Homo sapiens: one gene and its partners. The protein of the gene in region 6 interacts with the protein of the main gene of each other region in a biochemical or structural test. Each region holds a gene or a part of one and is shown on either strand. Other genes may lie near its edges. The genes, in order: HDAC6, RHO, PLCB1, FSHR, PDE6G, GRK2 and GNA15.

Evidence for each region.
Region 1: of the proteins of GRK2 (region 6) and HDAC6, one has a biochemical effect on the other in vitro, tested with the Homo sapiens proteins (one study listed by BioGRID).
Region 2: the proteins of GRK2 (region 6) and RHO form a complex in vitro, tested with the Homo sapiens proteins (one study listed by BioGRID).
Region 3: the proteins of GRK2 (region 6) and PLCB1 form a complex in vitro, tested with the Homo sapiens proteins (one study listed by BioGRID).
Region 4: of the proteins of GRK2 (region 6) and FSHR, one has a biochemical effect on the other in vitro, tested with the Homo sapiens proteins (one study listed by BioGRID).
Region 5: the proteins of GRK2 (region 6) and PDE6G form a complex in vitro, tested with the Homo sapiens proteins (one study listed by BioGRID).
Region 7: the proteins of GRK2 (region 6) and GNA15 form a complex in vitro, tested with the Homo sapiens proteins (one study listed by BioGRID).

Annotation. Positions count from the first base shown.
Region 1 is NC_000023.11:48,815,195-48,819,066, forward strand, and holds part of HDAC6 (protein deacetylase HDAC6), read left to right. Parts: intron 1-189; coding exon 190-296; intron 297-380; coding exon 381-448; intron 449-689; coding exon 690-858; intron 859-946; coding exon 947-1,075; intron 1,076-1,270; coding exon 1,271-1,439; intron 1,440-2,131; coding exon 2,132-2,265; intron 2,266-2,846; coding exon 2,847-2,915; intron 2,916-3,025; coding exon 3,026-3,218; intron 3,219-3,872.
Region 2 is NC_000003.12:129,527,149-129,531,629, forward strand, and holds the start of RHO (rhodopsin), read left to right. Parts: upstream 1-1,490; 5' UTR 1,491-1,585; coding exon 1,586-1,946; intron 1,947-3,727; coding exon 3,728-3,896; intron 3,897-4,481. UniProt on the Homo sapiens protein: Photoreceptor required for image-forming vision at low light intensity. Required for photoreceptor cell viability after birth.
Region 3 is NC_000020.11:8,135,197-8,139,071, reverse strand, and holds part of PLCB1 (1-phosphatidylinositol 4,5-bisphosphate phosphodiesterase beta-1), read right to left. Parts: intron 1-3,875.
Region 4 is NC_000002.12:48,983,425-48,987,299, forward strand, and holds part of FSHR (follicle-stimulating hormone receptor isoform 1 precursor), read right to left. Parts: intron 1-3,875. UniProt on the Homo sapiens protein: G protein-coupled receptor for follitropin, the follicle-stimulating hormone. Through cAMP production activates the downstream PI3K-AKT and ERK1/ERK2 signaling pathways.
Region 5 is NC_000017.11:81,649,726-81,653,684, reverse strand, and holds the end of PDE6G (retinal rod rhodopsin-sensitive cGMP 3',5'-cyclic phosphodiesterase subunit gamma), read left to right. Parts: exon of another isoform or gene 1-27; intron 28-320; 5' UTR 321-379; coding exon 380-525; intron 526-1,999; coding exon 2,000-2,040; intron 2,041-2,534; coding exon 2,535-2,611; 3' UTR 2,612-3,226; downstream 3,227-3,959.
Region 6 is NC_000011.10:67,272,610-67,276,484, forward strand, and holds part of GRK2 (beta-adrenergic receptor kinase 1), read left to right. Parts: intron 1-3,875. UniProt on the Homo sapiens protein: Specifically phosphorylates the agonist-occupied form of the beta-adrenergic and closely related receptors, probably inducing a desensitization of them. Key regulator of LPAR1 signaling.
Region 7 is NC_000019.10:3,156,470-3,160,344, forward strand, and holds part of GNA15 (guanine nucleotide-binding protein subunit alpha-15), read left to right. Parts: intron 1-1,258; coding exon 1,259-1,412; intron 1,413-3,875. UniProt on the Homo sapiens protein: Guanine nucleotide-binding proteins (G proteins) are involved as modulators or transducers in various transmembrane signaling systems.

The DNA of each region.
Region 1 (3,872 bases), on a different chromosome or scaffold from region 6:
CCGCTTTCCTTCTATAAAACGAGCATAATGTAATCACCTCATATCATTGTCCAGTGAATTCAGTGAGGCACCCTTCTAAGTTCCTTGTTGCTTGACATGTGGTATGCACTCTCTTATTATCATCATTATTATTATTCCCTGGTCATGTCTGGTCCTTTCCTGATCCCCCTTCACAACTCCTTGCCCCAGGGTGGCTACAACCTCCGCGCCCTGGCTGAAGGCGTCAGTGCTTCGCTCCACACCCTTCTGGGAGACCCTTGCCCCATGCTGGAGTCACCTGGTGCCCCCTGCCGGAGGTGAGCCCCGGTGGAGGAGGGGAAAGCGGGAGCCTCACTGCCCGCCCACATTCCTTGACATCATATTTTCTCCCTGCCCTGCAGTGCCCAGGCTTCAGTTTCCTGTGCTCTGGAAGCCCTTGAGCCCTTCTGGGAGGTTCTTGTGAGATCAAGTAGGAAGTGGGGTGTGGGCCTGGTGTGGGGTGGACGTGGGATGAGCCCTGGGGGAGACTGTCTTCAGACTTCCTCTGACTTTACTGGGCTGCCTTGGTGGGAGAGGGTCAGGCCCTCTCTCTCTCCCTGGGCCCTGGTTTCAGGCCTCCCACCCCTTTTTCTGTTTGGGTCACCTGAGTTCCAGAGTATGACGGGGATTCAGATTGAGAGGGTAGGACAAACGTGGCCTCCCCCTTTTAGCTGAGACCGTGGAGAGGGACAACATGGAGGAGGACAATGTAGAGGAGAGCGAGGAGGAAGGACCCTGGGAGCCCCCTGTGCTCCCAATCCTGACATGGCCAGTGCTACAGTCTCGCACAGGGCTGGTCTATGACCAAAATATGATGAATCACTGCAACTTGTGGGACAGGTAGGCATTTGGAGGGCTGGATGAGTAGGTGTTGGGGGTCCCTCCCCCTCAGGCACTAAGCCTCTACCTCTCGTTTCCCCACTGCTAGCCACCACCCTGAGGTACCCCAGCGCATCTTGCGGATCATGTGCCGTCTGGAGGAGCTGGGCCTTGCCGGGCGCTGCCTCACCCTGACACCGCGCCCTGCCACAGAGGCTGAGCTGCTCACCTGTCACAGGTCAGACCCCGGTGCCTGGGGTGGGTGGATTCCCAGGACTGTGGATGAGGTCTCAGGGGCTGGAACTTGGGTTTCCCCTCCTGGGGAGCTGCTGCAGGACTTGAGAGGGGCTGAAGTCCCTGTCTTAGGGGTGGGGACCAGGGAGGGGACAGACCCTCCTCACTGTCCTGCGGGTGCTCCTCTCTGTGCTTCCAGTGCTGAGTACGTGGGTCATCTCCGGGCCACAGAGAAAATGAAAACCCGGGAGCTGCACCGTGAGAGTTCCAACTTTGACTCCATCTATATCTGCCCCAGTACCTTCGCCTGTGCACAGCTTGCCACTGGCGCTGCCTGCCGCCTGGTGGAGGCTGTGCTCTCAGGAGAGGTGTGTCCTCTGTGGGCTGGGGAGAGGAGGACCTGGGGGGAATGGAAAAAGAGAGCCATCTGCTGTTTCTGGAGGCTCTGAGAGAGTCAAGCAGGGCCTGAGGAAAGGGGCCATGGGGAGGGGCACGGGAGGGGGTGGGCCTAGAGGCTGGGGGAATAATGGAAGGAACTGGAGAAAGGGAAGGGTGGCCAAGTGCAGTGGCTCACGTCTGTAATCCTAGCGCTTTGAGAAGCTGAGGTGAGCTCAGGAGGTCAAGGCTGCAGTAAGCCATGATTGCACCACTGCACTCTAGCCTGGGCAACAGAGTGAGACCCTGTGTCAAAAAAAAAAAAAGGTCCGGGCGTGATGGCTCACACCTGTAATCCCAGCACTTTGGGAGGCCGAGGTGGGCAGATCACGAGGTCAGGAGATCGAGACCATCCTGGATAACATGGTGAAACCCCGTCTCTACTAAGAAACATACAAAAAATTAGCCGGGCGTGGCAGCAAGCGCCTGTAGTCCTAGCTACTCAGGAGGCTGAGGCAGGAGAATGGCGGGAACCTGGCAGGCGGCGCTTGCAGTGAGCCGAGATGGCGCCACTGCATTCCAGCCTGGGCGACAGAGCGAGACTCCGTCTCAAAAAAAAAAAAAAAAAAGGAAGAAAGGAAGGTGAGGGCAGGCTGTCCGATCTTAGCACCCTGCTGCTTCCCAGGTTCTGAATGGTGCTGCTGTGGTGCGTCCCCCAGGACACCACGCAGAGCAGGATGCAGCTTGCGGTTTTTGCTTTTTCAACTCTGTGGCTGTGGCTGCTCGCCATGCCCAGACTATCAGTGGGCATGCCCTACGGTAAGGACTCCCTGGGGACCCCCCAAATCCTGATCCTTGTGGGGACCTGGATGCTCCCCCCAGCCCATTGTTTACTCATGCCCCATGGTCCAGCTCCCAGGACTTCCTTCCCCAGAAAGAAGTAAGGGTGCAGTCCTTACCCAGAGAAGGACCGAGGATGGAGCCTCTCAGTGCTTATTTAGATAGGACCCCCAGATCATGTTACCTGGGCACTTACAAAACAGGATCCAGGGTCCCACCCCAGCATTTCTGGCCTATAGCAGCTGCCTCGACAGAACCCAGGTCTAGGCTCCTGATGCATACTCCAGAAGACCCACGAACCAGCCCCCAGCATTAGCTGCCCAAGGCCCAGGGTCCAGTTCCCTAGCAATGACCCAGAAGAGCCCAGGGCCCAGCCCCGAGCACTTGCTCAGGCCTACCGGGCAGCCCTTGGGAACCAGGATCAGACTTTTCTCCTTAACTGATAGGACCCAGGGTCCTGCCACTCAGCACTAAATGCCCCTGCAGACCCCAGGGGTCTAGCCCAGCCCTCTTCCAGGGCGTGAGTATCGTCGGTTACTGAGGTGCTGTCTCCTCCCCAGGATCCTGATTGTGGATTGGGATGTCCACCACGGTAATGGAACTCAGCACATGTTTGAGGATGACCCCAGGTAAGGGCTGCAGTCAGGGGCCGCAGTGTGATCAGGGAGGCGGGTGAGCACCTCAGGGGTACTGGAGCCCCTAACCAGCCATGGTCCGCTTCCCACCCCCTCCCTGGCAGTGTGCTATATGTGTCCCTGCACCGCTATGATCATGGCACCTTCTTCCCCATGGGGGATGAGGGTGCCAGCAGCCAGATCGGCCGGGCTGCGGGCACAGGCTTCACCGTCAACGTGGCATGGAACGGGCCCCGCATGGGTGATGCTGACTACCTAGCTGCCTGGCATCGCCTGGTGCTTCCCATTGCCTACGAGGTACAGCTCAGGATAGATCGCAGGACGTATGTGACACGCCTGTGCAGGTGGCAGCCTGGACCTGCCTCCTTGGCATGTGTGTGTGTGACTACCATGTGGCTGATGATATGAGACAGCGCATGGGTGTTTAATGAGGCTACCAGGGCAGTTGGTGGCTGTGATCACCTTGTGTATTTGTGCACAGATGGCTGTACATGACTGCCTTCTCTGTGTGACACTGTGTGAGTGACTGTCTTGGCTGTGTGTGTGAGGGCCTTCTGACTATGCACCAATGGCCCGTGTCCTGGCTGGATCTGTGTTGTATGTGCGTGCCATCACAAGTGCTTGAGTATGTGCGTGTGCGACTCTGTGCAGGCAGGTATTTCTCACCTTTTCTCTGTGTGATGGGTGTGATACTGTATGTCACTAAATGCAACCATCTCTGTGACAGCCTGTGTGGGACCTTCTGGATGTGGAAGGCTGTGTGTGACAGCAGTCACTGTCTGGCTGTCTGCCCTGGCTGTTTGTGTGTATGTCTCTGACTGGGAGGTAGCTGCCTTCCCTCTGTGTGAGCTAGGAGGCTGGTGGCTTGTGTATGGCTGACTCTGGGAGGGAGGGAAAGGGTGTGAGCACCGCTCTGTCACCCTGGGCGCCGGTGTGCATCTTTGGATCTGC
Region 2 (4,481 bases), on a different chromosome or scaffold from region 6:
GAACTGTCCCTACTGTTATTCGCTCTTCTATTTGTTTGTGGTCCCTGTGCCCCCTCACCCCACAAAAACACTGGCTTCTTGTGAGCAGGAGCTTGCTCTTTCGTGTACCCTGTGTGTCCCCAAGGACCAAGCACCTTGTCTGGGCCACAGTAGGTGCTCAATACACATGTTGGCTGGACAGTGGTCACTGAGCGGCCGCACGTCGGGCACTCTCAGCACTTGCACAGGCCGCCCCAGACACCCCACTTCATTCCTGGGAGGTGTCATCATGTTGCTTGGACGACGGGGAGAGGGGGACCTGCCAGTGTTGGCCTCCATTTTCCCCCAGTCATCTGCCCCCAAGGCTCTGACTACTTTCTTTCTCACGGTACATCCTGCTATTCTGGAATCGGCCCTCGTGGGGCCACCTGGTACATGGCATTTGAGGCCCTCGTGGCTGATTAGGCCTCCCCCAACAGTGCCCTGTCTGCTGCCTCCAGGGCCAGCCTCCCCTTCAGACTGGAGTCCCCTGAAGGGTTCTGCCCCTCCCCTGCTCTGGTAGCCCCCTCCATCCTCCCTCCCTCCACTCCATCTTTGGGGGCATTTGAGTCACCTTTCTACACCAGTGATCTGCCCAAGCCACTGCTCACTTTCCTCTGGATAAAGCCAGGTTCCCCGGCCTAGCGTTCAAGACCCATTACAACTGCCCCCAGCCCAGATCTTCCCCACCTAGCCACCTGGCAAACTGCTCCTTCTCTCAAAGGCCCAAACATGGCCTCCCAGACTGCAACCCCCAGGCAGTCAGGCCCTGTCTCCACAACCTCACAGCCACCCTGGACGGAATCTGCTTCTTCCCACATTTGAGTCCTCCTCAGCCCCTGAGCTCCTCTGGGCAGGGCTGTTTCTTTCCATCTTTGTATTCCCAGGGGCCTGCAAATAAATGTTTAATGAACGAACAAGAGAGTGAATTCCAATTCCATGCAACAAGGATTGGGCTCCTGGGCCCTAGGCTATGTGTCTGGCACCAGAAACGGAAGCTGCAGGTTGCAGCCCCTGCCCTCATGGAGCTCCTCCTGTCAGAGGAGTGTGGGGACTGGATGACTCCAGAGGTAACTTGTGGGGGAACGAACAGGTAAGGGGCTGTGTGACGAGATGAGAGACTGGGAGAATAAACCAGAAAGTCTCTAGCTGTCCAGAGGACATAGCACAGAGGCCCATGGTCCCTATTTCAAACCCAGGCCACCAGACTGAGCTGGGACCTTGGGACAGACAAGTCATGCAGAAGTTAGGGGACCTTCTCCTCCCTTTTCCTGGATCCTGAGTACCTCTCCTCCCTGACCTCAGGCTTCCTCCTAGTGTCACCTTGGCCCCTCTTAGAAGCCAATTAGGCCCTCAGTTTCTGCAGCGGGGATTAATATGATTATGAACACCCCCAATCTCCCAGATGCTGATTCAGCCAGGAGCTTAGGAGGGGGAGGTCACTTTATAAGGGTCTGGGGGGGTCAGAACCCAGAGTCATCCAGCTGGAGCCCTGAGTGGCTGAGCTCAGGCCTTCGCAGCATTCTTGGGTGGGAGCAGCCACGGGTCAGCCACAAGGGCCACAGCCATGAATGGCACAGAAGGCCCTAACTTCTACGTGCCCTTCTCCAATGCGACGGGTGTGGTACGCAGCCCCTTCGAGTACCCACAGTACTACCTGGCTGAGCCATGGCAGTTCTCCATGCTGGCCGCCTACATGTTTCTGCTGATCGTGCTGGGCTTCCCCATCAACTTCCTCACGCTCTACGTCACCGTCCAGCACAAGAAGCTGCGCACGCCTCTCAACTACATCCTGCTCAACCTAGCCGTGGCTGACCTCTTCATGGTCCTAGGTGGCTTCACCAGCACCCTCTACACCTCTCTGCATGGATACTTCGTCTTCGGGCCCACAGGATGCAATTTGGAGGGCTTCTTTGCCACCCTGGGCGGTATGAGCCGGGTGTGGGTGGGGTGTGCAGGAGCCCGGGAGCATGGAGGGGTCTGGGAGAGTCCCGGGCTTGGCGGTGGTGGCTGAGAGGCCTTCTCCCTTCTCCTGTCCTGTCAATGTTATCCAAAGCCCTCATATATTCAGTCAACAAACACCATTCATGGTGATAGCCGGGCTGCTGTTTGTGCAGGGCTGGCACTGAACACTGCCTTGATCTTATTTGGAGCAATATGCGCTTGTCTAATTTCACAGCAAGAAAACTGAGCTGAGGCTCAAAGAAGTCAAGCGCCCTGCTGGGGCGTCACACAGGGACGGGTGCAGAGTTGAGTTGGAAGCCCGCATCTATCTCGGGCCATGTTTGCAGCACCAAGCCTCTGTTTCCCTTGGAGCAGCTGTGCTGAGTCAGACCCAGGCTGGGCACTGAGGGAGAGCTGGGCAAGCCAGACCCCTCCTCTCTGGGGGCCCAAGCTCAGGGTGGGAAGTGGATTTTCCATTCTCCAGTCATTGGGTCTTCCCTGTGCTGGGCAATGGGCTCGGTCCCCTCTGGCATCCTCTGCCTCCCCTCTCAGCCCCTGTCCTCAGGTGCCCCTCCAGCCTCCCTGCCGCGTTCCAAGTCTCCTGGTGTTGAGAACCGCAAGCAGCCGCTCTGAAGCAGTTCCTTTTTGCTTTAGAATAATGTCTTGCATTTAACAGGAAAACAGATGGGGTGCTGCAGGGATAACAGATCCCACTTAACAGAGAGGAAAACTGAGGCAGGGAGAGGGGAAGAGACTCATTTAGGGATGTGGCCAGGCAGCAACAAGAGCCTAGGTCTCCTGGCTGTGATCCAGGAATATCTCTGCTGAGATGCAGGAGGAGACGCTAGAAGCAGCCATTGCAAAGCTGGGTGACGGGGAGAGCTTACCGCCAGCCACAAGCGTCTCTCTGCCAGCCTTGCCCTGTCTCCCCCATGTCCAGGCTGCTGCCTCGGTCCCATTCTCAGGGAATCTCTGGCCATTGTTGGGTGTTTGTTGCATTCAATAATCACAGATCACTCAGTTCTGGCCAGAAGGTGGGTGTGCCACTTACGGGTGGTTGTTCTCTGCAGGGTCAGTCCCAGTTTACAAATATTGTCCCTTTCACTGTTAGGAATGTCCCAGTTTGGTTGATTAACTATATGGCCACTCTCCCTATGGAACTTCATGGGGTGGTGAGCAGGACAGATGTCTGAATTCCATCATTTCCTTCTTCTTCCTCTGGGCAAAACATTGCACATTGCTTCATGGCTCCTAGGAGAGGCCCCCACATGTCCGGGTTATTTCATTTCCCGAGAAGGGAGAGGGAGGAAGGACTGCCAATTCTGGGTTTCCACCACCTCTGCATTCCTTCCCAACAAGGAACTCTGCCCCACATTAGGATGCATTCTTCTGCTAAACACACACACACACACACACACACACAACACACACACACACACACACACACACACACACACAAAACTCCCTACCGGGTTCCCAGTTCAATCCTGACCCCCTGATCTGATTCGTGTCCCTTATGGGCCCAGAGCGCTAAGCAAATAACTTCCCCCATTCCCTGGAATTTCTTTGCCCAGCTCTCCTCAGCGTGTGGTCCCTCTGCCCCTTCCCCCTCCTCCCAGCACCAAGCTCTCTCCTTCCCCAAGGCCTCCTCAAATCCCTCTCCCACTCCTGGTTGCCTTCCTAGCTACCCTCTCCCTGTCTAGGGGGGAGTGCACCCTCCTTAGGCAGTGGGGTCTGTGCTGACCGCCTGCTGACTGCCTTGCAGGTGAAATTGCCCTGTGGTCCTTGGTGGTCCTGGCCATCGAGCGGTACGTGGTGGTGTGTAAGCCCATGAGCAACTTCCGCTTCGGGGAGAACCATGCCATCATGGGCGTTGCCTTCACCTGGGTCATGGCGCTGGCCTGCGCCGCACCCCCACTCGCCGGCTGGTCCAGGTAATGGCACTGAGCAGAAGGGAAGAAGCTCCGGGGGCTCTTTGTAGGGTCCTCCAGTCAGGACTCAAACCCAGTAGTGTCTGGTTCCAGGCACTGACCTTGTATGTCTCCTGGCCCAAATGCCCACTCAGGGTAGGGGTGTAGGGCAGAAGAAGAAACAGACTCTAATGTTGCTACAAGGGCTGGTCCCATCTCCTGAGCCCCATGTCAAACAGAATCCAAGACATCCCAACCCTTCACCTTGGCTGTGCCCCTAATCCTCAACTAAGCTAGGCGCAAATTCCAATCCTCTTTGGTCTAGTACCCCGGGGGCAGCCCCCTCTAACCTTGGGCCTCAGCAGCAGGGGAGGCCACACCTTCCTAGTGCAGGTGGCCATATTGTGGCCCCTTGGAACTGGGTCCCACTCAGCCTCTAGGCGATTGTCTCCTAATGGGGCTGAGATGAGACACAGTGGGGACAGTGGTTTGGACAATAGGACTGGTGACTCTGGTCCCCAGAGGCCTCATGTCCCTCTGTCTCCAGAAAATTCCCACTCTCACTTCCCTTTCCTCCTCAGTCTTGCTAGGGTCCATTTCTTACCCCTT
Region 3 (3,875 bases), on a different chromosome or scaffold from region 6:
AAAAGACAGATGTAGGATGCTTTTATTTCTGTTTTAATATAAATAAAATAATTTTAGTATAAATAAAAATAACTTTTTTCCAATTTTATATAATAGTTTGTTACTCAATTTATAATAATTTAGTTTCTTGATAAATGCATAGATTTAGTCAACCTCAATTAATAGGTACATGCAAACCATTTTTGGAATACAAATTGAAATAAAAATTTTGAGAATTAACACATGGTAATGATAATAAAATCGAACATTAGCTCTTAAAGAGATCAGAGGAAAACCAGAGAGACTCTTAAAGAACATAAGCATCCTTTATAATCTATTCCAATTAGTTAGTTCCTTTATATCCTATTTCAGTTAGTTAGTTACAAAAATCAATGGCTTTTTTATGGTCATATATGTAAATGACCTCAGAAATATGTCTATATTTCCTTTGCCTACTTACACATAGGGGCACAAGGCTCTGCTTAGGGGGATCAGACATAGAACAGAAAGGGAAAAGATTAGATGGAAAAGACTGTGAAATATGCCTGAGCATTTGGAATTTATGATATGATCTGAAAGGTTGCATGAACCTAATTATTAGCTCCAGTAACAAGAAGACCAATGATTTCAGTTACCAGGGGTTTGTTATTTAAGTGGAGACCCATAGCGTTAGTCAACAATTCACCAGCAATCCCCTTCCATTTTCTGCTGGCGATTCTTGTTCATGATAACATGAAACAATTCTGATAAGGAAACATTTACAGTTTACCAAATCCCACATAAAAAAGTAAAATGTTCCCATTCCATTTATATACCATTGCAGATAAATATAACTTGAAGCTATTTACTGATAGGCTAAACTTTCAAATGAAACTAATAGCCACTGCAAATTATCCTCATTCACCATAGGTGGGGAAATATTAGTGTTAAGCAAGATAAGAGAGAAAACCTATGAGAGAAAATTATATTCCAGCAACAGTACTGTACTAGTCAGCTTTGCCATGCCAATAACAGCCTGAAGGCATTACATTTCCTCTGTAAATTACTAGGGTTTTGTTGAACTGTTTGCTCCTTCAGGGCATTTACTATACCTGCTATACTTCCCAGACTTGGGACAGACAAGAACCCAATCAATGGCCATCTAAACTGACTGTAAGTCACTTTTGTTGCTGTTGTTCAAGAGGATCAGTTCAGCAATAATAAAAATGTTTTAGGCTGAAGAGGTTTTTTTTAAAGTTTTCATTCAAAGTAAAAATAGCTTATTAGATTAAAAACAAGCAAAACCAAACTATAAAGTTAGAAGTCAAGATAAGGGTTACCCTTAGAAGGGGACGTAGGGACTGGAAGAGAGCACTCAGGAATTCTGGGGCAAGTGATGCTGTTTCTTGATCTGGTACTGATGACATGGCAATGTTCACTTTGTGAAAATGGATCCAGCTGGACACAGGATTTGTGTGTTTTGTTGTACGCATGTTACACTGATTTTTTAAAAAGTTTCAAGTAGTTTTATTGATTTGCTTGCAAAAGAGTTATGCTCTTACACTTAGATTACAGTAATTATTGACTGCCAATGAGAAATTCTCAAAGCTCTTTGGACAAGAAAAATGGACATAACTGGGCAAATTTAAGTGGCTCCTTAGAGGGCATCTGCTAGCCTTCCATTCTAAAATCCACCTTGCACTTTGTAGTTGCTCCATCCACATCAGCCAGCTACCAACTCAGAGAAGTTTCCTCCCTGTTTCCCATAACCTTTCCAAAGTGAACGCTACTAAATTCCCACCTCGCAAACCCTTTTCCCCTCTGCTCTCTCATTAATCTTGTGAGTGTCATCTTGTCATCATTTACTTGTCATCATTTTGGAAACTGGAACAGCAGATTCCACATAATGCAAAAGTTCTAAGCTTTTGTGTAGGATGCTGGGAAGTGTGCAATATACTAGTATTTCTTAAATTACCTGTTTTAGCTGTGGGGGTTGGAGGTGTGGTAAAGGAGGGAGTTACTTGATTCAAATCCAGATGGCATTAACGCAAATCCAAACTTCTGAGTTTCATCAGACTTCTCAGACAACTTAGTCTAGCAATTATTTTTCCATGTTAGAATATGCTTGTAAGACAGAACGTGCAATGTTAAATTATATACACATATATACATAAATATATTTTATATGGAATTTAAGTAAAAATAAACTTTTGGATTATTTGTAAACTGACTTGCTGTAGAGAATGGATCCTGCTCTAAATTACGTACTTATTTTCCGTGAAACACCTGGATTTTTAAAAGAAGGTGAGAAACCTGATTTTTCTCCAAATTATAAAGTATAAAATCAAAACACACATTAAAGGGAATGGAAGTAAGGTCTGAATTTTTCCACTAGTAGAATAAAAGAGCCATAGAACACCTGCTAATCACCTTGATAAAATTCACGTCCATCTTATTTTTGAGGGACAATAACTTTTTTTTTTTTTTTGAGACAGAGTCTTGCTCTGTCGCCCAGGCTGGAGTGCAGTGGCGCGATCTCGGCTCACTGCAAGCTCCGCCTCCCAGGTTCACGCCATTCTCCTGCCTCAGCCTCCCGAGCAGCTGGGACTACAGGCGCCCGCCACCACGCCCGGCTAATTTTTTGTATTTTTAGTAGAGAGGGGGTTTCACCGTGTTAGCCAGGATGGTCTCGATCTCCTGGTCTTGTGATCTGCCCGCCTCGGCTTCCCAAAGTGCTAGGATTACAGGCTTGAGCCACCGCGCCCGGCCGACAATAACTTTTAAAAACATGTTTTATTGAAGGTTGCCTGTATGTCAGGCTTTATACAAAGCAATGCATATGCATTCATTTATTTAACCTCAACAGCTGTTCTGAGTTAGGAAATATTACAATTTGCATGTTACCGTTGAGGAAACTGAAGTTGGGATGCGTTAAGCAACCTGCCCACAGTAAGATCTGAATTTGAAAGGTAAGAATGAAGAAACAGAAGGAATAAATAAATGAAAACCCTTCCATCCCTCAGAGGTTGTGCGACAGTGAGACAGAGTGCTTAGGCATGGAAAACAGGGCCAAATCAGTGGCTGGGGGTCCTATTGTACAGTTTACAGTCCTTGCTCTTTCTCTCCATGTCCTGCCCAATATAGACCAAGGCCAAGATCCAGAAGAGAGAGGAGCTTCTCTCACAATCTCCCAAGCTCCCTAGCTTAGATCAAGAAAGTAACTCTCCTTCCACTGTCTACCTCACCAGAATTCTCCCACAAATACCCATAGTCCTTTACACCCACCTCCTACCACCAGAGCCTGCTAACAGACAAATGCAAAACAAAAGCAAAGACATGAGGTTGAATTTTTTAAATATCATTAGGTCAGTCCTTTATCTTCATGCCAAGTTCAGAAGGACAGGTATAGCCTTGATGTTCAGACAATATACACCATGAGTTTTAAAATACTGAAATAGTCAAAAAAACTCCAGCTACCTACCCACCCATCCACAGACCCTGGGGACTCCCAGACCTCCCCATGACCAAGCAGCAAAAATATTAACGCCTGGCCCTGGTACAACAGGGTATCTCCAGGATCTATTACCCCCCTGCTGTCTGTTGTGATTGTTTAGTGCCTATGTTAAAGCTTTCGACTACCACCCTTAGAGCATCCACAGCCTCACTGTGACTTGGTAGGTGGCCAGCAAATTATGCATGGCACTGCAACCTCTGGGTGACATCTTCCATTCCATATGGTGGTCAAGACAACAAGACCAGTGATTATACTGCTTTAATCACTTCAGGAACAAGAGATAATTTCTTCACATCCTAAACAGCCCCAAATTCATCATTTTTGAATGTCCTGTAACATTACCACGCTTTTACACAAGAAGCAGCAAAAATACAGAGAAGCTAAGTGATTTGCCTAAAGTCAT
Region 4 (3,875 bases), on a different chromosome or scaffold from region 6:
TAGGCAGAGCAGCCTGGATTCTATAACTGTAAGGTCTTTACACACATCATTTGTGTGTAGAGAAGCAATGCGGGGAGCGACAGATCTTTCTCATCCTGAAGGACAGGAATCGTACAATTATTGAACAAGTGTTTATAAGACAGAGAAAGAACATTTTGTGTCACCTTTCTCTAAGGCCTTAAGCCTTTCACCCATGATCACCCACAGCAGCAGGCCTGGCTGTCATCAAAAGTGATCTAATTAAGTTGTCAGACAACCTGAACATCTCCTGTGACCCATAGGGACCTGGTTATTGGAGGTTTGTGGAGGTGGCTCTGGGTTAAGCCAGAAAGGAAGAGAAATCAATTACAGAGAATGTGGGCTGTGGCAGGGTGAGGTGATCTGAATGAGCAGGGGAGGAGGTTCTGGGGGAGGTGGAGATGGGTGTAGAACAGCCATCCTGATTGCGCTAAGAAGGTCAGTGAGCAGGGTTCCCTGGACAGGGGAGCCCAAGGACACCTTGGGCTACAGCTCTGCCTTGCTCTGCTCCTGAGTGGATCTGAAAACAAAAACAGATACCAAGGTCAGGAGAGCTTAGCCCGAAGAACCTCTGACTACCTGCTCTTGTTTTGCTGTCAGGTTCTTTTCCCTGTCCAGCTTAGTGGGCTTGCAAATAACACTGTACAGAAAGCTGACCCAGAGAAGCTCCTGTGCATCCAGGACTCTCTTTCCTGGGCTGCCATGGGTAGCCAGAAAACACTTAAAATCACAGGAGAACAACTGTATGTCTTTTTCCTCCTCTTGAAAACCAATTACCTAAAAAAATCCAGAAAGGGGCGAGGCAAATCTTTTAAAACATTCACAATCAATTGGTGGGTTCTGATGGCAAAGAAGTGGCTATGCACCCCCAATGCCATTTGAGAAAGCCTCTCCCAGGCACATCTGGACTCCTGACTGTTGCAGGATAGTGGGAGTTGCTGAGGTAGCTGTGGCATGTGGATCCCTGGGGATTTGAATCAAATACAGGATTCAGCAAACTTTTTCTGTAAAGGGCCTGATAGTAAAGTTTAGGTTTTATGGGCCAAAAGGCAAAAATAAAAAATATTATATAAGTACTTTATGTACTTATAAAACAATTACCACAATTTTTTATTGACCAAATTCAAAGTGTAATAATTGGGTATTTTTTTTTTTTGTAATATAGGCCTAATATTGAGAAGAGAATTTTTAGTGGGGGATAACATTTTGCTTAACTTAGATCTAATGTTAGTGTTTCCTGTCTTAGCTCATGAGCTGGATTTGGCCTCTGGGTTATATGTAGTTGGCTGACCCTTAATCCATACAGGTTCCACCTATTTGCCTATTGACTAGATAATTAATATTTCTTGCATATTACTGTCCTGTAAATCGATGTTGCTATAATCAAATAAAACATAAACTAATTTTAAATAATTATTGTATTCAAATATCCCTTTGTCTTTATGGATTATCTCAATCAACAGATACCATTATATGGGGAGGAGGATGGTATTTCTTGATATCAGCAGTGGATCATCACACAAAAAAAACAAATTATGTTCAGAACTGCTGCCCTTGGATTTACGTTATCTGTGGGAATCTCAAGCTAGTAACAAAGGGAAACCCACATTTATTACACGCACCCCTGGTCTCTTAAGAGAGGAAGTACCTATTTGAAAACCAGATGATGACGATGATGACGATGATGACGATGACTACAACAACCTGGGCAGAACATCAACTAAGGAGTTACTGCATCACAGGCTTACCTTAACCCTTTTGTGTCCTTGGGGATGAGGCCAGTGTGCTCACTCAGCAGAGGCTCAGGAAGCTACAGAAGTGAACTTTGCTCTCATCCTAAAGAGTGGAGGTGCTGGGGACTTGGCCCTTTAAAACTCATTGAGGGGCAGGCAAGGGAGACGGGCAGACTGAGGAACAGAGGAAACACGCACGAAGCAGGTCTCTCCTGAGGCCCGAGTGTGCTGGGCACTGTAACGCATATCACTCATTTTATTTCTTCTGAATTAGGACATTATTCTCCTGGCTGGCCATAGCTAGGTGCTTTCCCCATTCAGGCACTCTGCTTACCAGGGCACAGTGCGGGTGCAGAAGGGCTCAGAAGCCTCTACACAGTGGGTTTTTATTGCTCACTTCTCTGATTCACTAGGCTAGTGTCTGATAATCTTTCATTGCTGGTTGCTTTAAAAATACATTTACTTTTAGAACAGGGCCTCAGAATTTTTTTCAACTTTCAGTTTCAGGGGAGCAAGTACAGGTTTTTTTTTTTTTTTTTTTTTTTTTTTGAGACGGAGTCTCGCTCTGTCGCCCAGGCCGGACTGCGGACTGCAGTGGCGCAATCTCGGCTCACTGCAAGTTCCGCTTCCCGGGTTCACGCCATTCTCCTGCCTCAGCCTCCCGAGTAGCTGGGACTACAGGCGCCCGCCACTGCGCCCGGCTAATTTTTTGTATTTTTAGTAGAGACGGGGTTTCACCTTGTTAGCCAGGATGGTCTCGATTTCCTGACCTCATGATCCACCCGCCTCGGCCTCCCAAAGTGCTGGGATTACAGGCGTGAGCCACCGCGCCCGGCCGCATGTACACGTTTTTTACATTAGGTAGTCTGCACGTCATGGGGTTTGGTGGACAAATAATTCCATCACCTGGGTAATAACCATAGTACCCAATAGATATTTTTTGTGATCCTCTCTCTCCTCCCTCAGGTAGGCCCCATTGTCTGTTGTTCCTTTCCTAGAATCCATGTGTTCTCATTGTTTAGCTCTTACAAGAGTGAACATATGGTATTTGGTTTTCTGTCCCTGTGTTAGTTTGCTTAGAATATTGGCCTCCAGCTCTATCCATGTTGCTGCAAAGGGCATGATCTTGTTCTTTTTTATAGCTGTGTAGTATTCCCAGAATTTTGAAAATTGCTATCCATAGAATACTTCAACAGTCATCAGCGCCATTTGCCATGCTTTTTTTTTTTTTTTTTTCTGAGTGTGCTCAAATGTCCCCATGGGAAGAAAACACCCCTGCATCGAAGCTGCCAAACTAGAAACGATTGGAGACTTAAGTTGTGTTAAGTATGAATTACATGATTTTATTGTCTATGGATTAAGGGACAGCCAAAATAAGAACAATAGAAATTGTTTCCACAAAAGTGAGTTTATCCTTTAGAGACATGTCTGAGAAACATTCACTCTTAAAAGAAAACTCCTTTCCTGAAAAGTGTGTTCCTAAATTCTGAGAGATCAGTGTCCATGAACAGGAGTTAGGAAAGAGCAGACAGGATCTATATGTTTCCCTTGTAGCTTTGGGTTTGCAAAGCTATGTCAGAAGTTCTTATTTCCTCAGGTTCTTTGCCTCTAGTTGGGGAGAGTTGAGACCAGGTCACTTAAAGTGCTTTGCCTTCTGTCTTACGGTCTGGACAAAAAAGTCAGATCAATGATACTGTGAGAACAATATAAGCACACTATGCAAAACTACAAGAATGATATGAGCACACTCCCACTTAATTATATATTTTCTATAAAAAAATTGAATAAGTTTGCCATATTATAACATTCATTTAAGTCTATTTAAAATGAACATATATTTCAAGAAAGATCCAAATAAACATAAACATCTAGGTATAAATGTTTACATTTATCACCAATCTCCCTCTGTGAAGTAACCCAGGAATCCTTTTACTGTTGTGTTTGTTTCACAATCCAGCAGGCCAATATGACTCATGTATTCACTATTTTCCACAAGCTCTTTGTATTATTATTTTTATTTATTTTATTTTATTATTATTACTTTTTGAGATGGAGTCTCACTCTGTTGCCCAGGCTGGAGTGCAGTGGTGCAATCTTGGCTCACTGCAAACTCTGCCTCCCGGG
Region 5 (3,959 bases), on a different chromosome or scaffold from region 6:
AGGACCTGCCACAGGTTGGGAGGCTAGGTTTGCTGTGGATTGTGGGCCGGGGCGAGGGAGGCCAGGACAGGGGGGAGTCCGGAGCTGTGTGTGGCCAGCGTTGCAGGGGGGCATCCACTAGGCAAGGGGAATGGGAGCGTGCGGGTGGACCCAAGCAAAGCTGGCAGGCTGGTTACCCCAGGGCGGATTGCAGGGGCTGCTGTCTGGATGACGCTGGAGCTGGCGGGGCTGGGTCTCAGCCCCTCCACCGGTGGGTTGAGACCCCCACAAGGGTTGGAAGCAGGAGGGCTGACTGGGACCCGGGCCTGGTCTGCCCCCAGACCGCAGCAGGAGGGAGTCCAGGAGCCAAGGTTGCCGCGGTGTCTCCGTCAGCCTCACCATGAACCTGGAACCGCCCAAGGCTGAGTTCCGGTCAGCCACCAGGGTGGCCGGGGGACCTGTCACCCCCAGGAAAGGGCCCCCTAAATTTAAGCAGCGACAGACCAGGCAGTTCAAGAGCAAGCCCCCAAAGAAAGGCGTTCAAGGGTAAGCAGAGCTGGGGGATGGGGCCTCTGAAAGGGAGGAGGCGGTCCTGAGGCTGCACAGGAAGGGGAGGGCGGGGCAGAGCCTGGGGCCACTTCACTGGGTGAGTGGTCCCAGCCTCACAGCTGGGGAAGGTAGGGCGGTGCCTGAGGGCCTGAGCAGGGATGGAGGAGGGGGAAGGGGAATTGGGGGCTCCTGTCACCCGCTCCAGATGCTACTGCCAACCATGCTTGAAAATACAGCCACTGCCGGCCAGGCGCGGTGGCTCAGCGCTTTGGGAGGCTGAGGTGGGCAGATCACCTGAGGTCGCGCCCGGCCTAAAAAAAAGTTTTAATACCTGCCAAAGTAGCCCCCTAGGATCGCGAGTTTGAGACCAGCCTGACAAACATGGAGAAACCTGTCTCTACTAAAAATACAAATTTAGCCAGGCGTGGTGGTGCACGCCTGTAATCCCAGCTACTCAGGAGGCTGAGGCAGGAGAATCGCTTGAATCCAGGAGGCAGAGGTTGTGGTGAGCTGAGATCGCGCCATTGCACTCCAGGCTGGGCAACAAGAAGAACAAAACTCCGTCTCAAAAAAACAAAACGGCCGGGGGCGGTGGCTCATGCCTGTAATCCCAGCACTTTGGGAGGCCGAGGCGGGCGGATCACGAGGTCAGGAGATCGAGACCATTCTGGCTAAGAAGGTGAAACCCTGTCTCTACTAAAAAATACAAAAAATTAGCCGGGCGTGGTGGCGGGCGCCTGTAGTCCCAGCTACTCGGGAGGCTGAGGCAGGAGAATGGTGTGAACCCGGGAGGCAGAGCTTGCGGTGAGCCGAGATCACGCCACTGCACTCCAGCCTGGGCGACAGAGTGAGACTCCGTCTCAAATAAATAAAAAAAATACAACCACTGCCACCCAGGGACAGCCATGGCACAATGCACCGAGGAGTGTCCACTCACACATGCGCACACACGGGCATCTCGCTCCCATCAGTGCACCGAGGAGTGTCCACTCACTCGTGTGCGCACACAGGCACCGCGCTCCCATCAACGCACCGAGGAGTGTCCACTCACACGTGTGCGCACACACGGGCATGACACTCTTATGCACAAACACGCTCACACCTCCACATATGCACGTGAGGCACACTCACAGACAAGCCACCTTCACAAATCTACACTCAGACCATGCACCAACCACGCACCCCCCCGTACTCCCCCAGGGCACGCACCTGCCCAGCATCCTGGGACTTGCACCTCCTTTTCTAGGCCTCAGCCCCATGATGCTCTGGGCAGCAGACTCACCCTGGGTCTGTGAGGGAAGCCTCCTCAGATGCGCCAAGCCCTGGGAGGTTGGGGAGGAGGCGGGTCTCTGCCCACTGGGCTCCCAGCCAAACACCTCATCTCCTAGGAAGGCTAGAGATGACCTCGGGCCTCAGGCTGACTGAGCCAGGACTGGGCCCGGCCATGTCCCTGAGTGCTCTGTCCTTGCAGGTTTGGGGACGACATCCCTGGAATGGAAGGCCTGGGAACAGGTATGACGGCTGCCAGTACCAACCCGAGGTCTGCCCAGGTCCCCCCAGGCACACCCAGCACGCCCGGGGCCCATTGCAGCCCACCTCGGCCCCCACCTCCCCTGCTTTTCACTTAGGGACCCCCAGCCTGTCCATCACTTCTTCCCCCAACACTGAGCTCCAGATCCACTGGATCTAGAGGGTGGGGCTGTCCCCATTTGGGACACTTGCACCAGGTGAGGGGAGGGGTTTGGGAAAGAACAGAACCCCTCGCTGCCTCCTCCCCCTTCAGCAAGCCCCACCCTCCTCTGGTTCCCTCCCCTGGACCTGCTGCACCCACCCTCCTTCCCCCACAGCCAGTGTGTCCCCAGAGGAGGGCCCCACTCCAGCGTCCGCACGTCCCCGCTCAGCACACTGTAGGGCTACACCTGGGCTGTGGGAAACAGGGCCACAGGGGATGGGGGGGTCCCTAGGCCGTGGGATCCTCTCTGATCCGTGGCCCGTTTCTCCCACAGACATCACAGTCATCTGCCCTTGGGAGGCCTTCAACCACCTGGAGCTGCACGAGCTGGCCCAATATGGCATCATCTAGCACGAGGCCCTGCTGAAGTCCAGACCCTCCCCCTCCTGCCCACTGTGCTCTAAACCCTGCTCAGGATTCCTGTTGAGGAGATGCCTCCCTAGCCCAGATGGCACCTGGACACCAGGATGGGACTGCAACCTCAGGTCTCCCCCTACATATTAATACCAGTCACCAGGAGCCCACCACCTCCCTCTAGGATGCCCCCTCAGGGGCTGGCCAGGCCCTGCTCAACATCTGGAGATACAGGCCCACCCCTCAGTCCTGCCCACAGAGAGGCTTGGTCGGTCTCCACTCCCAGGGAGAACGGGAAGTGGACCCCAGCCCGGGAGCCTGCTGGACCCCAGATCGTCCCCTCCTCCCAGCTGGAAAGCTAGGGCAGGTCTCCCCAGAGTGCTTCTGCACCCCAGCCCCCTGTCCTGCCTGTAAGGGGATACAGAGAAGCTCCCCGTCTCTGCATCCCTTCCCAGGGGGGTGCCCTTAGTTTGGACATGCTGGGTAGCAGGACTCCAGGGCGTGCACGGTGAGCAGATGAGGCCCCAAGCTCATCACACCAGGGGGCCATCCTTCTCAATACAGCCTGCCCTTGCAGTCCCTATTTCAAAATAAAATTAGTGTGTCCTTGCCTGTCTGTGGCATATTTGTGCATGGGACAGGGCCTGTGGTGGGGTCACTTGAGCCGGAGCACATGGGGGAAGGGGTGGGCAGTGGGGCAGGAGGGGCTGGCCTGCCTGAGTGGGAAGACAGCCCTTGGGCTCACACTCTCACTGAGCCTTGCTGGTGGCCCCAAGACACGCAATGTCAGGCCATGGCTGGGTCAAGGCAGAAGGCCTTGGTGCACACCCAGGGGCCATAGTCAATGAAGCATGCAGGTGGCTGGAACAGGCCACACAGAGAAGGTGAGACTGGACATGGCTTACACCACACGCCGTGAGGCCGGAGCTCCTACTCCCACCTCACAAGAGAGAAACTGAGGCACAGTGACACTAGCAACTCCCCCAGAGCACCCAGCCAGCTCGTCCTTAGACAGTGCCCACTAAAACTGGCTGTATCTGGGCACAGTGGCTCATGCCTATAATCTCAGCACTTTAGGAGGCCAAGGCGGGAGGATCACTGCAGTCCAGGAGTTCAAGACCAGCCTGGGCAACATAGCAAGACCCTGTCTGTATTTGAAAATAACAATAGGCTGGGTGCGGTGGCTCACGCCTATAATCCCAGCACTTTGGGAGGCTGAGGCAGGCAGATCACGAGGTCAGGAGATCGAGACCATCCTGGATAACGCGGTGAAACCCCGTCTCTACTAAAAATACAAAAAAAAAAAAAAAAAAAAATAGCCAGGCGTGGCGGCAGGCGCCTGTAG
Region 6 (3,875 bases):
TGGGCTGAGCCTGCTCCGGGAGCAGTAGGAGCTGGTGCAGGCCGCTGTAACTGCAGGGGTGCCAAGGTGGGACTGACTGCTCCTTCCCAAAGCTGGGTGGGCACCAAGTACCTCTGTGCCAAGGAGCCCTTGATACTTTGGCAGGGCAAGCCACGGGCTCTACCCACTGGGCCCGCAGTAGAGCAATGCAGTGCCTGAAGCTGGTCTGTGAGCAGAGGAGTCCCACCCTGCTCGGCTCAGCCCTGGCCACAGGCCCCATCCTCCAAGGCCCCATCCTCTCCGAGGACACGGCAAATGTGGAGCAGAGGCTTGAGCAAGACCAGTTACTGTGTGATTCTAGCATGGACTGTCGGTGAGCCGTGGGGCACTGAGAAATGGGGCTCTGGCGGCTCTCTCCCATGGCCCAGCAGGCGGGGCACGGCGGGCAGCATGGCCAGCCTGGCATATTAGAAGCCCTCCTTCTGCCGTGTCCACCCAGGCTTTGTAAATGGCCAGTGTGACGGTGGCGATTCAGCATCTCATTGACATCCTCATTTTACAGCTGGGGAAACTGGACATTTCAAGTTTGTGACCAGGTGGTGAGGGCCACTTGGAACCCAGGCACCCGTCCAACGGCCAGAGCAAAGGCAACTCTGAGGCCCTTGCCCAAAGGTGTTGGGAACCTTAGCGTCCTTCCATCTGGGACTGTTGAGGCCGCTTGGTTCTCCTGATGCTCCAGAGTAGATCTTGGGAGCCACGTTCCCCCGGATCTCAGGGTTGCTGACCTGGGTGGGGGACAGGGACACGCTCTGGGCTCACTGCCACTCCAGACTCTGCCAGTATCAGGGAGCAGTGTTGGAGACAAGGTGACCCAGTCCAGGAGGCTGTCCCACCCCTGTGCTCGCCCGTGCTTGCCACCCTGGCAGGAGCTGCCCCCAGTGGCAAGTTCTTCCAACCTGCCAGTTCCCTTGGCGGCCAGACCCATGGGAATAGACAGGAAACCCTAAAATTGCCACTTTGGGGGCCTTCCATTCAAGGACTCTGCTCAGGCCTGACCTCGTGTTTGGTTTCTTGCTTGGGGGGAGGGGGGTTGTTTATTTTATTTAAAAAACATTTTTTTCTTTTTAAGGAAGAAAGTGGAGTGCTGTGGGCTGGGAAGAATGTGGTGGCCATGCCCAGGCGTGGCTGCTGAGGGGAGAGATGGCCTCAGAGCCCCGGGTCCTGCTTCCTGCTGTTCCCAGGCCGGGGCTGACAGCAGAGCCCCTGGGAAGGAGAAAGGGCCTGCCCGGCAGGTTCCCCTGGCTGTCGCAGGCAGGGAACCAAGCATGCTTCCCCCTTGGAGACTTTGTGTGTCCAGTTGAAAAGTGGCAGTGGCTACTCCCTGGCTCCTAGGTGGCCATTCCCTCTGCCAAACTGGCACCTTTTTTTTTTTTTTTTTTTTTGAGACAGAGTCTCACTCTGTCACCCAGGCTGGAGTGCAGTGGCACGATTTTGGCTCACTGCAACCTCTGTCTCCAGGGTTCAAGCGATTCTTCTGCCTCAGTCTCCTGAGTAGCTGGGACTACAGGCGCACGCCACCATGCTGGGCTAATTTTTGTATTTTCAGTAGAGACGGGGTTTCACCATGTTGGTCAGGCTGGTCTTAAACTCCTGACCTCATGATTCGCCCGCCTCGGCCTCCCAAAGTGCTGGGATTACAGGCGTGAGCCACCGCGTCCCGCCAAGCTGGCACCATTTTTGCAGGCTCCTAAGAAGCAAGTCTGGGGCTCAGTGGGGCTTACTGCTGAAGCCCGGTGGCCCCCATTCCTGGGACAATGCCCGGCTCCTGGTGGGTGACCCCTACAGGCTGGGATTGCTTTGCCTGTCATCTGCATCTGCCTGTCGCTACCTTCCGCTTGACCAGCACCTTTTTTTTTTTTTTTTTTTTTTTTTTTGCTTTTTTTCATCCCCTTCTGTGGACCAAAATGTCCTGGCCCACCTCCCAGGTGAGATGCAGGCCCCTGACCTTGGGGTTTTCTCCACGTTCCAGTCTCCCAGTGCACAGCCTGTGCCCTGAGGGTCGCCCAGGGCCCAGGCCTCCTGTCTGCAGGTGCCAAGGGCAGGGACCGTGTCTTTCTCAATTCAAGAGATTTTTATGAAGCCCTTGCTGTGTGTGAAACACCACAATCTCCGTCCACCGTTTCCTGTGTCCCTGGGAGTCCCACATGCCGGGAAACATGTCCTTGACGGTGGCTGGTGGACATGAGCTGGCGTGTGGCCCGAAGGGGCGGGTGTGCTGGTGTGGACGCGGGGCCCATCCTCGGAGCTCCTGTCAGTTCTCAGAGGGCATCCTCACTCCCCGGTGGGGGGCATGGGCCCCCCTCTTCCCATCCAGGCAGGGTCTGTTCCAAAGCAGTCATAGGATGCGAACTCAGGGTCACCTAGGCCCATCCTTGTCTTCAGTGCCCTGCTTCCTGCTGGAGACAACTTTGGAAGAGGCCGCGGCCCCTCCCAGCCTCTGAGGGTGGGGAGCAGGCCAGGGGGTCGCGGCCTTGGAACCGTGCTCATGGCAGCCCTGCTGTGCTCGTGCTATCTCGCTCGGCCTTTCCTGAGGAAGGCTGGAACCAAGTGAGATCAGGGGCCGAGGCCCGGGAGTCCACTGCAGCCCTTCCTGGAAGGACAGTGCCCAGTGGAAGCGGATAAGAGCCCCCTCTCGAGGCCGAGGTCAGAGGCCAGGCAGGGTCCACAGGCCAGGTCCGCACTGTCTGGAGCTGCTCTCCGCAGACGGCTCTTCTGGCTGAAGCTGCCATTCTTCCAGACCCTCGGGCCCAAAGCCTGGAAGCCCTCACGGGGCTGGCCTCATAACCCTTCTCCCGGTCCCCGACAGCCTGAGCCTTCTCCCACCCACCCCCTTCCCCTTCTTCCTGCCCAAGTGTTGCCTCTGCCTGGGCTTCCTCCGCGTGGCGCCTCCAGTGGAGTCGGGCCACCCACCGCCCTGGACCAAGCCTCCTGAGTCCTGCTCTCCTGCCCACTCCTTGGCTGTGAAGCCCCCTGGTTTGCAAGGCCCTGCCCTCCGCCTCACCATGGCCTTTGTGTGCCCTCTCTCCTGCCCCATTGGCCCCTTGCTCATCCCTGGACATACTGTCCCCTGCCTGTTCCCACGTCTACCGACCCCCCTGGCTTCGCCAGCTGCCGAGATCCCACTTGCACTCCAGGAACCCAGTGGAGTTCCACCTTCTCCACACAGGCTTTCCAGACCCAGAGGCCTCCTCTCCTTCCCAAGGCTTCTGCACACGCTGTCTGGTATCACAGGCTCAGAACCATGCCCTGGGCAGGGCTGTTTGGAGCAGGGGGTGGCTTTGGCATGAGGTACACAGTGCCTCAGGGGTAGATGTGCAGCGGGTCCTCGTGACCACAGCCTGGGTGGCCAGTCCGACCAGCCCTGGGCTGGGCTCCTAGGGGCAGGCAGGGCCGGGGTGCAGAAAGGCAGGGGCCATGGCAAGCACAGAGAACCTGGACTTGCGGATCCAAATCTCCACCAGCTGCAGTCATTTCACGGGAGGCCTGCTGGTGGCCCCATAGACCTGCAGGGCCATGTGAGCGTGACATGGGCTCAGGTGTGTTGTCCCTTCAGGCCCCCAGCCTTGCAATGCCCTCAGCATGGCAGCTACACGTTACCCCAGGAGCCCAGACTAGTGAGGACCAGATGCAGGCCTCAGCTGGCTGTTGGGACAGACCGGCAGGGCTGGGCTTGAGGTGGGCCAGGAGAGGGCAGGAGGGGACAGTAAGGTGGTATTTGAGGCCGGGAGTGTAGCCTGGTGTGGCGCTCCCAGACAGCACTCAGTGTGGGGTGAGATAAACAGGGTGGGGGATGTCGGGTTGGGTTTTGAGGGTCACAATGGCCAGGCCCTCCCCTA
Region 7 (3,875 bases), on a different chromosome or scaffold from region 6:
ACACACACGCACACACAGGCACACAGGCACACACATGCGTGCACACACACATGCACGCACACGCACAGGCTGGAGTGCAGTGGCGCGATCTCGGCTCACTGGAAACTCCGCCTCCCGGGTTCACACCATTCTCCTGCCTCAGCCTCCGGAGTAGGTGGGATTACAGGCACCCGCCACCACGCTCGGCTAATTTTTTTTTTGTATTCTTAGAAGAGAGGGGGTTTCACCATGTTAGCCAGGATGGTCTCAATCTCCTGACCTCGTGATCCGCCCGCCTCGGCCTCCCAAAGTGCTGGGATTACAGGCGTGAGCCACTGTGCCCAGCCAATAGCCTCTTTTAATAAGTACACCAGTCGTCTAGGATCAGGGCCCACCCTACTCCAGTACGACCTCATCTGGGTTAATTCCTCGTGTGATGGCCCTGTTTCCAAAGAAGGTCACAAACTGAGGTTCTAGGGGGTTAGGTCTTGAACGTATGAATTTTGGGGAAATATGATGTACCCCATAACACAAGGCATTTGAGACCTTATTGTACTTTTTTTTTTGAGATGGAGTCTCGCTTTTGTCGCCCAGGTTAGAGTGCAGTGGCGCGATCTCAGCTCACTGCAACCTCCGCCTCCCGGGTTCAAGCGATTTTCCTGCCTCAGCCTCCCGAGTAGCTGGGTTTACAGGCACCTGCCATCATGCCCGGCTAATTTTTTGTATTTTTAGTAGAAACGGGGTTTCACCATGTTAGCCAGGCTGGTCTCCAACTCCTGGCCTCAGGTGATCTGCCCGCCTTGGCCTCCCAAAGTGCTAGGATTACAGCCGTGAGCTGCCGCGCCCGGCCAGGTCTCCCTCTTCTTATGAGGACAGCAGTCACGGACTTGAGGGCCACCGTATTCTAGTATTGCCTCACCTTAACGACCTCTTCAAAGACCCTATCTCCAGGCCAGGTGCAGTGGTTCATGCCTATAACCCCAGCACGCTGGGAGGCCAGGAGTTCAAGAATCTCTCTCCAGATAAGGTCACACTCTGAAGCTCTGGGGGGACATGAATTTCGGGAGGACACACTTCCAACCAGCACAGGCACAAAACCATGTCAGGCACACCCAGGCAGCTGTCCATATGGAAACACGGGCACACCCGCCTCAGCCCCAGCCAGGCAGATAGGGGTGAGCCCATGCCCCTGGAGCCAACAGCCCCGTCTCCGCGATGGGAGGGTTTCCTGTCCCACCTGGCTGGTTGAAGCACTAACCTGCTTCTGCCCCCAACACAGAACCGCATGAAGGAGAGCCTCGCATTGTTTGGGACTATCCTGGAACTACCCTGGTTCAAAAGCACATCCGTCATCCTCTTTCTCAACAAAACCGACATCCTGGAGGAGAAAATCCCCACCTCCCACCTGGCTACCTATTTCCCCAGTTTCCAGGGTAAGTAATTCTAGAACTTTCTATACCCTTCAACTCCCAAAAGCAGCTCCGAAGAGAGATGCTAATCCAGACTCTACTTCAGCCTGGAGTCACCGGAACTTTCACATAGGATCAGACCCGCGTTCTAGACTCAGCTCCATCCACTGCCCGACCTCATTGAATCTGTTTTCCCTTCTGTGGAATGGAATAAAATAGCAGAGGCCCTTGGAACTGAGTAAAGTGAGGAATTCTAAAAACACGTAGCATATCACGTACACCTTAAACATTTTATTTATTTATTTATTTTTGAGACAGAGTCTTGCTCTGTCACCAGGCTGGAGTGCAGTGGCGTGATCTCGGCTCACTGCAACCTTTCCCTCCAGAGTTCAAGCGATTCTCCTACCTCAGCCTCCCTAGTAGCTGGAACTACAGGTGCGCGCCACCACGCCCAGCTAATTTTTGTGTTTTTAGTACGAAAAGACGGGATTTCACCATGTTGACCAGGATAGTCTCGATCACTTGACCTCCTGATCCACCCGCCTCAGCCTCCCAAAGTGCTAGGATTATAGACAGGAGCCACCATGCCCGGCCAAACATTTTATTTTATGCTTGTTGGCCAACATTTGGGGTTTGAGCCAAGATCCTTCAAGCATGGGTTTGCTATGTAGAGGTCACTGTTGTAAAGCACTTCTGGAAAGATTGTCTACTATTTCCAGAATCTGCCTAGGTTTTAAGAATGATTCTTTTTCTTTTCTTTCTTTCTTCTATTTTTTCTTTTTGAGACAGAGTCTCACTCTGTCACCCAGGCTGGAGTACAGTGGTGCGATCTTGGCTCATGGCAACCTCCAACTCCCCGGTTCAAGTGATTCTCCTGCCTTAGCCTCCCAAGTAGCTGTGATTACAGGCACGTGCCACCAAGCCTGGCTAATTTTTAGTAGTTTCCTGTCCTATTTTTAGTAGAGATGGGGTTTCACCATGTTGGTCAGGCTGGTCTCGAACTGACCTCAAGTGATCCACCTACCTCAGCCTCCCAAAGTGCTGGGATTACGGGCGTGAGCCACCGCATCTGGCCATAACGTTTCTTTTTCTAATCTTTCATAGTGATCTCATCTATCCCTAATTGGATAGCAATTTCTTTTTCTTTAATCCATTTTTTCTTTAATTTTTTTTTGTTTGTTTTTTGAGACGGAGTCTCGCTCTGCTGCCCAGGCTGGAGTGCAGTGGCGCAATCTCAGCTCACTGCAAGCTCTGCCTCCTGGGTTCACACCATTCTGCTGCCTCAGCCTCCCGAGTAGCTGGGATTACAGGTGCCCGCCAGAACGTCTGGCTAGTTTTTTGTATTTTTGGTCGAGATGGGGTTTCATCATGTTACCCAGGTTGGTCTCAATCTCCTGACCTCATGATCCACCTGTCTCGGCCTCCCAAAGTGCTGGGATTACAGGCGTGAGCCATCGTGCCCAGTCTATTTTTTCTTTAATTTCTTTTCTTTTTTTTTTTTTTTTTGAGATGGAGTTTTGCTCTTTTTGCCCAGGCTGGAGTGCAATGGCACAATCTCGGCTCACCGCAACCTCCGCCTCCCGGGTTCAAGGGATTCTCCTGCCTCAGCCTCCCGAGTAGCTGGGATTGCAGGCATGAGCCACCACCCCGGCTAATTTTGTGTTTTTAGTAGAGACGGGGTTTCTCCATGTTGGTCAGGCTGGACTTGAACTCCCGACCTCAGGTGATCCACCCGCCTCGGCCTCAAAGTGCTGGGATTACAGGCGTGAGCCACCACACCTGGCCTTTCTCTTTAATTTTTAAAGCAGAGCTTTGAACAATGTTTCCAAAGCACACAGCTTAGTTTTGTAATACAATGACCTTCTTTCATGCGGCACTTGTAGCTACAGATTTGCATAACGTTTCTTTTAATTACATATGAATCAAGACACGTACAATGGGCAAAAACAGGTTTGGGAACAAACTCTCAGTCCATCCAGAGGGTGAAAGGGCCACAGGGCAACTACAGAGAAACACCATCTAGTGTTGGGCACCACTTAGTATATTTTACAAAGGGGAGGCAGAGTTGTGGTTAATCCAGGGACCAACGTGGGGAAGGTACATATTCACTAGCACTTTCCCCAGAACACCACTGTGAGGATAAAGTGTGGTGGCGGGTGTCCTGCTTAGCTACTGCCGAGTAACAAACCATCCCCAAACTTAGTGACTTAAACTGGTCATTTTCCTTTGCTTATGATTTTGTGGGTCAGGAATTTGGGAAAGGTTGAGCTGGGTAAGTTCATCTCTGATCCATGTGACATCAGCTGGGCTCTATGGGATTGGAGATAAACTTCCAAGATGGCTTCTTCCCCCATATGTCTGGTGCCTTGGTGCTCTTGGCACTCTTGGCCTCTCTCTCTGTGTCTCTCCCTGCCTCCCTCTCCCATCTCATCTCTCTCTCCTCCCCTTTCTCCTAGTCTGTCTCTCCTTTTCCACCTCCCCTGTTCT